Homo sapiens: one gene and its partners. The protein of the gene in region 1 purifies or fractionates together with the protein of each later gene. This does not show direct contact. Each region holds a gene or a part of one and is shown in the gene's direction. Other genes may lie near its edges.

Region 1 (3,655 bases):
AAATTGGATTTCACTTTGTTCATCCATAAAGTAAGGAGTTAGAGTGAACTATTTAGTCCCAAGTTTCTAGGAATCTGTGGTTTTTGTACCCATTAGATATGGAATGCATGCTACTAATTAACAAAATCCACATATCTAGCCTATTATGCCATAGGATGGAGTGGATTACATTGGCTAAACCATTTTTCTTCTCTTTCTTTTTTTTTTTTTTTTTTTTGAGACAGAGTCTCACTCTGTTGCTGAGGCTGGAGTGCAGTGGCACCGTGTCGGCTCACTGCAACCTCCATCTCCTGGGTTCAAGCAATTCTCCTGCCTCAGCCTCCCGAGTAGCTGCGATTACAGGCGCCCACCACCATGCCCAGCTAGTTTTATATTTTTAGTAGAGATGGGGTTTCACCATGTTGGCCAGGCTGGTCTTGAACTCCTGACCTCAGGTGATCCACTCGCCTCGGCCTCCCAAAGTGCTGGGATTACAGGTGTGAGCCACCGTGCCTTACGTGGCTAAACCATTTTTATGCTGCCCTTATCAGAACTGAATTTGTAACTGACTTGTGTGCTTATATTTCTGTCTGTATGTTAAATGCAAAACTCTTCAGCTCAGGTCACTCTTGGTAGGGATGAGGGGCCATCTTGTCCAAGAAGGGAGCTGTCTGGGTTGGCTAGCCATGTGATCTGATACCAGGGTAAATGGCATCAGTATGCTAACCGATTCTGATACACCCCTTCTCTAGTCAATCCTTTCCAATTGATCTTAAAACACTCTTTTGTCTCTTCCCTCTTCAGAATCCGACAAGGATTCTTCTGTTGACTCTAGAATTCAGTCTGAAATGTTCTGCTTGGCACTCACCCTACAAATCTTGCTCTAAAATCTAGCCAGTGTTATTTCCCCAAAAGTCTGTGTTCCCCACCCCAACCTTCCTTCCCACCACCACCCAGGTGCCTTTGCTCATGCTGTTCTCATGGTTTTCAGTGTCCTTCATCTTTTTCAGCTTTACACCTTCTTTAGGGTCTTTTTTTTTTTTTTTTTTTTTTAAGAGACGAGGTTTCGCCATGTTGGCCAGGCTGGTTTCGAACTCCTGGGCTCAAGCAATCCTTCTGCCTCGGCCTCCCAAAGTGCTGGGATTACAGGCGTGAGCCACCACGTCCAACCAAGGCCTAATTTTAACTCTGAACAGTTTTACCTGTTTTTTATTTCAATTTAACTTTTTTCTCTTCGTCTTTGTAATGGAAAAAATCCCTTCCTTTCGTCCTAACTTTTTTAATCCTTCAATTCCCTGAGATTAATCCTTGGTCTTGCCTTCCACCATTCTCCCTACGCTCAAAAGAAATCAGTGGAAATAGATTCTCTGCTTCTCTTCAATTCAAGCAACAGTTCACAAGCATTTCCCTTGGGATTTGAGCATGACATGAATGAAGGTGTCTGTCTTCTCCCTCAGCCAGGGAAGCCTACTTCCACAGCTCAGCACAACTTCCTCTCTCTCTAGCTCGCTCTCCAGCAGTGCCCTCCTTTCTAGTTCCTTCTGCTGCATAACACAGCCCCAGAGGTTCCAGGGTTCCAAGGAGTCCACTCTGTCATGAAGCTCATTGACTTAATGCACAGTACCCAGAAGCCTCAGTGAAGTTCAGCTGAGAGCCAGTAGAAAAAAGGAGAAACTCCAAAGCAGAAAGTAGTAAATCAGCAAAATAAAATAAAATAAGCCAGGTTGAAGAGAATGAACCCACAATTTACAGAAAATGAACACCATTTTCTAAAGGAGACTTAAGTAGGACTACAGTTAATACCCTTTCACATTTAATAATTAATTGAGATTCATTGTAGATAAAGTACATTTGAAAAAAAATTTTAACATAATTCTACTGAAAATATCTGAATATTTAACTTGAGGTGGCTTAAAAGGACAATTGAAGCTGTTTTCCTATTGAGAAGGAAAAAAGGAAAAGTGGAACCAGAGAAAGTGAAGATGGTGAATGTATATTTTTCTCTACAGATTTTCAAACAAAATCTGGGAGTTTCCCCCAACCTTTTACGTAACTTCTTTCTTAATGCAATTTAGTTAAATGTACTCAGTAGTTTGCTGTGTGATCTGGCGCCATCTAGTGTATATTACAGGTACTGCATCTCCAAGAGGGCCAACCTTTTTTTTTGCATTCAAAACAATTTTATAATAAGTACCATATGTTAGCTAAAAGAAAGTAGAACTGTATACCCAGACTATGACAGTGGGGAAATTTTCTATATTTTTAGTGTGGCCTTTGACAAAGTCTTCCGATTTTGTTTCAACAGGAAACAGATGATTTGAAGAGAGCTGAGAGTATGCTTCAACAAGCAGATAAATTAGGTTGCAGACAGTTTGTTACCCCTGCTGATGTTGTCAGTGGAAACCCCAAACTCAACTTAGCTTTCGTGGCTAACCTGTTTAATAAATACCCAGCACTAACTAAGCCAGAGAACCAGGATATTGACTGGACTCTATTAGAAGGTAACTAAAAACCTCAATTTCGAATGTGTGGGACTATAGAGTAGAAATACATAGGCCACAATGATTTTACAATCTAGACTTAATAAGTTTTTTTATATCTACAAGAAGTAGATGGCAGATGCTGAGTAAAAACTGGCAGGAAAGTACGATACAAGTGAACTTTTAAAGTAAAGTAGTCGAGGCCGGGCACGGTGGCTCACAGCTGTAATCCCAGCACTTTGGGAGGCCGACATGGGCGGATCACCTGAGGTCAGTAGTTTGAGACCAGCCTGACCAACATGGTGAAACCCCGTCTCTACGAAAAATTAAAAAATTAGCTGGGGCGTGGTGGCACATGCCTGTAATCCCAGCTACTCGGGAGGCTGAGGCAGGAGAATCACTTGAATCTGGGAGACGGAGGTTACAGTGAGCCGAGATCGCGCTATTGCACTCCAGCCTGGGCAACAGAGTAAGACTCCATCTCAAAAAATAAATAAAAAAAATAAAAAGTAGTCGAGTCGCTTAATGTAAAGCCACTTAGTAAATCAGTATTTAGTTTTAATATTTAGGGTTAGACCACTTTTTAATCCTCTCACCAGGAAAAAGTGCACATATGCATTCAGTTTGACCTGTAAATTTAGCATATATTTATGTTTCATTCATCCACAGTCAATGTAACTGGAACTAACCCCAACTCCTTTCACCTTTACCTCCTCAAGAAACAAATGATAATATATACTAATTTTTTTTTAAGTTTTGGAAAGGCAGAGTTTACCTTTTCCAGATTATATATGTGTGAAGCGTAGTCTATAAAAATTAAGAAATGCAGCCAGGCGCGGTGGCTCACGACTGTAATCCCAGCACTTTGGGAGGCCAAGGTGGCCAGATCACCTAAGGTCAGGAGTTCGAGACCAGCCTGGCTAACATGGTGAAACCCCGTTTCCACTAAAAATACAAAAAATTAGGCAGGCATTGTGGTGCGCACCTGTAATCCAGATACTCGGGAGGCTGAAGCAGGAGAATCCCTTGAACCTGGGAGGCAGAGGTTGTAGTGAGCTGAGATCGTGCCATTGCACTCCAGCTTAGGCAACAAGAGCAAACCTCCATCTCAAAAATAAATAAATAAATAAATAAATAAATAAATAATGCAAATAGTAATTCATTGAGTGTCCACTGATATTTCTATAAAACCAGTA
Region 2 (3,655 bases), on another chromosome or scaffold:
TGGGATTACAGGCACCTGCCACTATGCCTGGCTAATTTTTTGTATTTTTAGTAGAGATGGGGTTTCATCATGTTGGCCAGGCTGGTCAGGCTGGTCTTGAACTCTTGACCTCAGTATGATCCGCCTGCCTTGGCCTCCCAAAGTGCTGGGATTATAGGTGTGAGCCACCACATCCAGCCTCTTCCAGTTATTTTAAAATGTGTAATAAATTATTGTTGACTATAGTCACCCTGTTATGCTATCAAACACTAGATTTTGTTCATTCTAACTATATTTTTGTACCCATTAGCATCCCCTCTCCCCGTCTCTCCCACTACCCTTCCTAGCCTCTGGTAACCATCATTGCACTATCATCATGAGTTCAACTGTTTTAATTTTTAGCTCCCACAAATAAGTGAGAACATGTGAGGTTTGTCTTTCTGTGCCTGACTTATTTCACTTAACTTAATGACCTCCCGTTCCATCCATGTTGTTGCAAATGACAGGATCTCATCTTTTTTATGGCTGAATAGTACTCCATTGTGTGATGTACCACATTTTCTTTATCCATTTGTCTGCTGATAAACATTTAGGTTGCTTCCAAATCTTGGCTAGGGAGAATAAACATGAAACTGCAGGTATCTCTTTGATACACTGATTTTCTTTCTTTTGGGTATATACCTAGCAATGGGATTGCTGGATGATATGGTAGCTCTTTTTTTTAATTTTTGAGGACCCTTCAAACTGTTCTCCATAATAATTGTACTAATTTACCTTCCCAATAGTGTGTGACGGTTCCCTTTTCTCCACATCTTCGCCAGCGTGTTATTGCCTGTGTTTTGGATAAAAGCCATTTTAACCGGGGCGAGACAATATGTCATAGTTTTGATTTGCATTTCTCTGATGATAATGATGTTGAGCACCTTTTTATATACCTGTTTGCAATTTGTGTGTTTTCTTTTAAGAAATGTCTATTCAGATCTTTTGCCCATTTTTAATCAGAGTATTAGATTTTTCCCTAATGAATTGTTTAAGCTCCTTATATATTCTGGTTATTAATCCCTTGTCAGATGGGTAGTTTGCACATATTTTCTACCATTCTGTGGGTTGTCTCCTTACTTTGTTGATTGTTTCCATTGCTATACAGAAGCTTTTTCCATATTTACTTTAGTTGCCTGTGCCAAGAGAAAGGGAATTTAGAAGCCTCACATATCACCAGTCTTTTCCAAGACATTTATTCAGAAAATTTGACTGTCCCCTATTCAAAATGGCACATCTCTTTTTTTAAAAAGTGTGAGGTTGGGCGCGGTGGCTCATGCCTGTAATCCCAAATTTGGGAGGCCGAGGTGGGCGGATCACCTGATGTCAGGAGTTCCAGACGAGCCTGGCCAACGTGGTGAAACCCCATCTCTACTAAAAATACAAAAATTAGCCAGGTGTGGTGGTGGGCTCCTGTAATCCCAGCTACTCAGGAGGCTGAGGCAGGATAATTGCTTGAACCCGGGAGGTGGAGGTTGCAGTGAACCCAGATCGTGGCACTGCACTCCTAGCCTGGGCGACAGAGTGAGACTCCCTCTCAAAAAAAAAAAAAGAAGTAGTAGTATGAGCTCACTGCTGTTTTTCTCCCTTCTCAGGATCGAACCTGCAAGCACTTATAGACAGTACTCGGGAACCAAATAGCTCTGCACAAATTGATATTGTTATCTCCAACAAAGCCGCAGTAGCTGGGTTAGATAAAGCGGAAAGAGCTGGTATTCCCACTAGAGTAAGTTACTTGGGAAAATATCTTTGCTGTGGGCCATATTTAAGCTCGTAATCTGCCCTCACAGGACCCTGGTCTATGGGCACTTGTTCTTGGGACTTCGCCATTTTGGGTGGGTGCTGGGCTTGCCTTCTTCATCCTGTCCCTTTCTTAATAATCTCTCTATCAGGTATATCTTTACAAGGAAGTGAAGTATGGTCTGTGTAAAGGTTGAGTTTTTAATTATTTTTGGTAATTCATTGAAAAGGGTTGTGCTTATCTTTTTCTATTACAGGTAATTAATCATAAACTGTATAAAAATCGTGTAGAATTTGACAGTGCAATTGACCTAGTCCTTGAAGAGTTCTCCATAGACATAGTCTGTCTTGCAGGATTCATGAGAATTCTTTCTGGCCCCTTTGTCCAAAAGTGGAATGGTAAGCAAAAATTATTTGACATCACATTGGGAAATCAATTGAAAATGGTCTCCAGAACAGATAACTTGCCAAACAATCCCAGTAGTGAACACCCATCCCAGAAATCCAACTCCTGTTTGACTGTGATATTTTATTAATACTTTAACACAGGTCACAGTTTAATTTCCTTTGTTTTACACTAAAGAATGACCCAATGATGATTTATTAACCTGCTCTCTATCCATTTACTTTGGCTTGCTGTAATTAATCACTTTTTCTAATGTAGCTTAGTTTTGTTTCACATTACTGCAAAGATAATATTTCATCTTTTGAATAAATATTCAGAAGACCTTCCTTTATTTGTTTGGAAGCAAAAGAGAGTGATTCCGTATATCCCAAAATGAAGAGTCCATCCTCTCTTAGGAAGCATAGACCATTGCCAGGAGTTGGCAAGGAGGAGGTTATTGCCAGAAAACACATACTATCTATGTTACTGCCTTCTTCCCAAAAGCCTTGACTGCATCCTGTTTGTGTATGTGTGCACACAGTTGGTCAATAAATGCATTTTCCCTCCAAAGAGTTTATGTATTCTTAGGTGAATGTAGTTAGAGCACTTGTGGTGTGATATAAAATAGACAATGCCTTTGGTGACATGAGCCACACAGAACTAATCTAGCATCTGTCTGGTGGACAGGTCACTTTGTGGTTAGAAGTCAAGCACATAGATGCTATGTAAGAACCTCTTGCTTATTTTTAATAGTACGTGCCAGCAACAAGCTGGTATTCAGCTTGAACTCCCCACCTTCCTGTCACCATGAATGTCTGTTCAGAGCACCCCAGCATGCCTTTAACTGTGCAAGGCGGGTACTTGCTGCTTCCAGGGCCTTCTTGGATGAGAACTTACTTTTACCTCATTTCTGTGTTTGGCAAAGAAAACATCCATCCCAGAAATCCAACTCCTGTTTGACTTCGGATCTAGATAGGAAAACGTATTCCTTTAACAGAATACCCAGGATTTTTAAATTCTGACCACTATGCTTTTTTTAATTTTTAGGAAAAATGCTCAATATCCACCCATCCTTGCTCCCTTCTTTTAAGGGTTCAAATGCCCATGAGCAAGCCCTGGAAACCGGAGTCACAGTTACTGGGTGCACTGTACACTTTGTAGCTGTGAGTATGTCTTTTTCTACCAACATAATATTAGTAGTCAGATGTAAATGACACTGGCTAGAAGGTAATGTTCAAAACTTTTGCTTACTTTTCCAGGAAGATGTGGATGCTGGACAGATTATTTTGCAAGAAGCTGTTCCCGTGAAGAGGGGTGATACTGTCGCAACTCTTTCTGAAAGAGTAAAATTAGCAGAACATAAAATATTTCCTGCAGCCCTTCAGCTGGTGGCCAGTGGAACTGTACAGCTTGGAGAAAATGGCAAGATCTGTTGGGTTAAAGAGGAATGAAGCCTTTTAATTCAGAAATGGGGCCAGTTTAGAAAGAATTATTTGCTGTTTGCATGGTGGT
Region 3 (3,655 bases), on another chromosome or scaffold:
TTCTTCCCCCCTTTCCCCTGACTCTCCTCCTCCCAGCAGCTTAAAATGTAAATCATGGTTATATGAAAACTCTGGAATGGGTAAGATGTGTTACTATCTTAGTACTTTTTTCCATTATGAGTCATCAAAGTACAGTTTTCTTCTCAAACTGTTTTCATACCCTTATTGGCCTACCACATGAGGTGGTTGTATTCCACAGTGGATTGTGCAGTTATAGATGAAGAACTCAGAAAAGCACTTTGGGATCCTTCATGATGAAAGGCACTGATAAACATGAGGTTTGCTAATGCAGAAAGAGTGCCTTTAGGAGTCTGTGTGGGGACAGTTTTGTAGCATAAACCTTACATGTCTGCCAGTACAGCCAGTTGAATCCGTTTATTTCTATATTTACTTTAGGCTTGACTTTCAGGGATCTTAGTAATTTTTGCCTGTTTTGTCACTACATATGTCATCAGATCAGACTAGAACAAAGAAAAGCTTACTGCTTTCAAACAGGGAAATGTGCATAGTAATGCTTTACTCTGAATTAGAAACATGTTTATGATAATCCTATTAGAAAATTTGATTGATTGATTAAAGTGTCTTTTTGGGTCGACATCCCTAGTGTTTCTGATCCTGAGTAATCAAATTTAAAGACTACCCAGCAGCAAAACTTTTATTAAATAATTATCTACTTTTATTAAGGCTGTATGCCTAGGATTTCCATCTGTTTGTTATAATTAGAAATACCAGTGTGAGTAAAAATCTTAGGAAGTTATTTGGCCTTGGATTCCAGTTCTACTCCTGGCTCCTTGGCTCTTGATTTTCGCATATTCCCATGTTGGAAATAACATTAGAGCTTAATAGTAGTAATGGGGTGGGAGAGGGTACAAACTTCTTGAAAATTGCTTCAGATCTTTGGATAGTACAGGTTACCTATAGAACATAAAGCATTTTTTTAATATGCAAGAAGGATGGAAACTTAAGTTTTAATTGTGAATGTTACAGTGGTAAAATTTACAGATTTGACGTAAGTATATTTTTGGGGGCACATAGTCAAAACTAAGAAATTATTTACCAGCTCAGAATGTGGTAGGAGCTATCAGAACTTAGTGATCAAGTGAAGTCGTAGTTACTAATTTCTGATGCTCTTCCCCTGCAGAAGAGAGCTGTGGGAAGAGGACTCAGCCACAAGACATTTGGTCCTAGGTGTTGGTAATGCCACAATATAAGTGCTTCCTTTTCATTTTATTGTAGACCACATATTGATAACTAGAAGTTTTAAGTGTTACATGTATGTTTTTAGATTTGCAAGCAGGTTCCCTAAATAAAATTTAATATGAGAGGGCAGACCTTGAAAAGGTGGTGGGAGGTGGTCCTGTGGTTTTTTTTTTTTTTTTAAATCACATGAAATATTTCAAAAATAGGAAGAAATCTATTCATTAAAAGCTCAAAGATCAATGAGGTACTTTTGGCTTTGGCCAAACCAGTGTGGGGAAAACTGATTTGTGATTGGTAAAAGAATTTGAACCAAGATTGATTTGACAGGCTTTGGTAATGCTGCAGTATTTTCAGTTGTTCTTTCTCATTTTTTAAGGCAAAGCAGAGAGCAGAGGTTCTTCAGTCCACGCAACGGTTCTTCTCTGAACAGCAACAGAGCAAACAGATAGGAGGAGGCAAAGCCCAGAAAGTGGACAGTGATTCAAGTAAACCTCCTGAAACACTGACCGACCCTCCTGGGGTCTGTCAGGAAAAAGTAGAAGAAAAGCCACCCCCTGCACCCTCCATAGCCACCAAACCTGTTAGAACTGGACCAATCAAACCTCAGGCGATCAAAACCGAAGAAACAAAATCTTAAAGGCTATGGTTTATTGCAGGGGATTGGGAGGGGGGCGGGAAAACATGGAGAATTAAGTCAGATAATGCTGGCAGCCAAAGGGGCAAAATGGCCTGTGACATTATCCTGTTCAGAGCTTGGAGATGTACAAGGGACATAGGAGCAATTTACACTGACACACAGCTGCTGTACCAGTGAAAACGAGGCTTTGCAAGCTTGTACCTACTATATAACATGTGCTTGGTTGATGGCCATGCATCTTCAGTCAGAATTTATATATAAATGTATGCACCCATTTTTTTGAGTGCATATAATTTAGACCTAAAAATCCTTATGATTAGATGAAACACCAAAAATATAAGGAAAATAACACAGCAGAGGAATAGCTCAGCCTGAACAGTGTGATGGTCCCAGCTACTACATCAGATGCGGTTTTTTTGCTCCCTTATGTTCTTCGGATATGGTTATGGCATTTGTAGGCTTGGAGGTAAAGAACTGAAGATAACTGGTGCTGGATAGAGGAGCCTTATTTTTTATTATGGCAGCTTGCTATTTTTATAACATGGTGATTGAGTTGAACACAATCAAAGTACAGTAGTAACTGATGTCCCCTTCTTCCTGGATGAATGAGCAGATAAATATTGATGTCAGCATCCTTGAACCATATCAAAGTGAGCAGTGTTTGGCTACTGCTTCTATTTGAAATGGTGCTGTGTTTTGGTTGTGGTCTGAAGCTTTGAAGCGCTACTTAGCATCTCCTTTCTTCCATGGAGCTCTCACGATTCAAACATGACAGATTTGGTAAAATGCTGGTTAGGTTGAGTCTTCCTTGCCCCCACTCAGTCATCTTTGTATGAATCCCATGATTTGGGGGTTTTTTTCTTTTTTTTTTTATACCAGTTTTTAGCTGGTGTTTATGAAGAACAGTGAGTACCTAGAACTGTGCCACTAATTAAAGGAAATCCTAAGAAGGTGCATTTCTTTACAGAGCTGTGTCATGCCATCCTTTGGGCCCTCTGCTGGAAAAGTAGAATCAAGTCTCAAATAATGCCTTTTTAATTGTATCCTCTAGTATTATAGATATAGGACAGTACTGTATCATACCTCTGTGAATGTAAAATATCTTGTACCTGCTTTATGATACGTAGTAGTGACCGTGCTTTATCAGAGCTGTTTTTAATGATGTTATTCTAGAATGTTTTCTTTCCAGATGATGATTCAGAAGCTAATTTTAAAAAACGGTGCCAGGTACCACAACAGTAACAGAACTTTGCAATTTTCTGGGGTTTTGTTTTTTACCTTTTTCCCCCCTTTTTTTTAAATGGAGTGTGCTGGATGTCTCTATAATTTTATTCAGATGACTGCAGAACCTGGAAAAGCTGTTGCTGCTATTGATGCATAACATACTGCTATTGGTCTTTTTATATAAATATATATATATATATACATATATATATATAATTTGAATTTTTGGAAACTTTAGCTGTGCTGTCAACTTTGGAAAAAGTATCCCGGTTTACTGTGTTGAGTTGGCATTGTACAGAAATTAACAGCCATATTGGTCTAGAAACGTTAAACTTAATTTTTTTCCATTTGTACAGGGGTAACGCACTGTATTAAATATGTAAGGTCTTATCTACATGGGTTTGATTACAGAAACTAATAAAGTATTCTCTAAATAATGATTCTTGGAGCTTATAATCATTTCCTAAAATCTGAAGCAAGAGGGTTTGTCATGTATTAAAAATAGTGGTCAAGAGTACTGGCCAGTCGCAGTGGCTCATGCCTGTAATCCTAGCACTTTGGGAGGCCGAGGCGGGTGAATTGCCTGAGCTCAGG

Evidence for each region.
Region 2: the proteins of PLS3 (region 1) and GART fractionate together in Homo sapiens (co-fractionation; one large-scale study listed by BioGRID). This does not show direct contact.
Region 3: the proteins of PLS3 (region 1) and PRRC2C fractionate together in Homo sapiens (co-fractionation; one large-scale study listed by BioGRID). This does not show direct contact.

Annotation. Positions count from the first base shown.
Region 1 is NC_000023.11:115,641,029-115,644,683, forward strand, and holds part of PLS3 (plastin-3), read left to right. Parts: intron 1-2,284; coding exon 2,285-2,480; intron 2,481-3,655. UniProt on the Homo sapiens protein: Actin-bundling protein.
Region 2 is NC_000021.9:33,504,063-33,507,717, reverse strand, and holds part of GART (trifunctional purine biosynthetic protein adenosine-3), read left to right. Parts: intron 1-1,613; coding exon 1,614-1,744; intron 1,745-2,015; coding exon 2,016-2,157; intron 2,158-3,190; coding exon 3,191-3,306; intron 3,307-3,402; coding exon 3,403-3,594; 3' UTR 3,595-3,655. UniProt on the Homo sapiens protein: Trifunctional enzyme that catalyzes three distinct reactions as part of the 'de novo' inosine monophosphate biosynthetic pathway.
Region 3 is NC_000001.11:171,590,011-171,593,665, forward strand, and holds the end of PRRC2C (protein PRRC2C), read left to right. Parts: intron 1-1,141; coding exon of another isoform or gene 1,142-1,194; intron 1,195-1,576; coding exon 1,577-1,837; 3' UTR 1,838-3,501; downstream 3,502-3,655. UniProt on the Homo sapiens protein: Required for efficient formation of stress granules.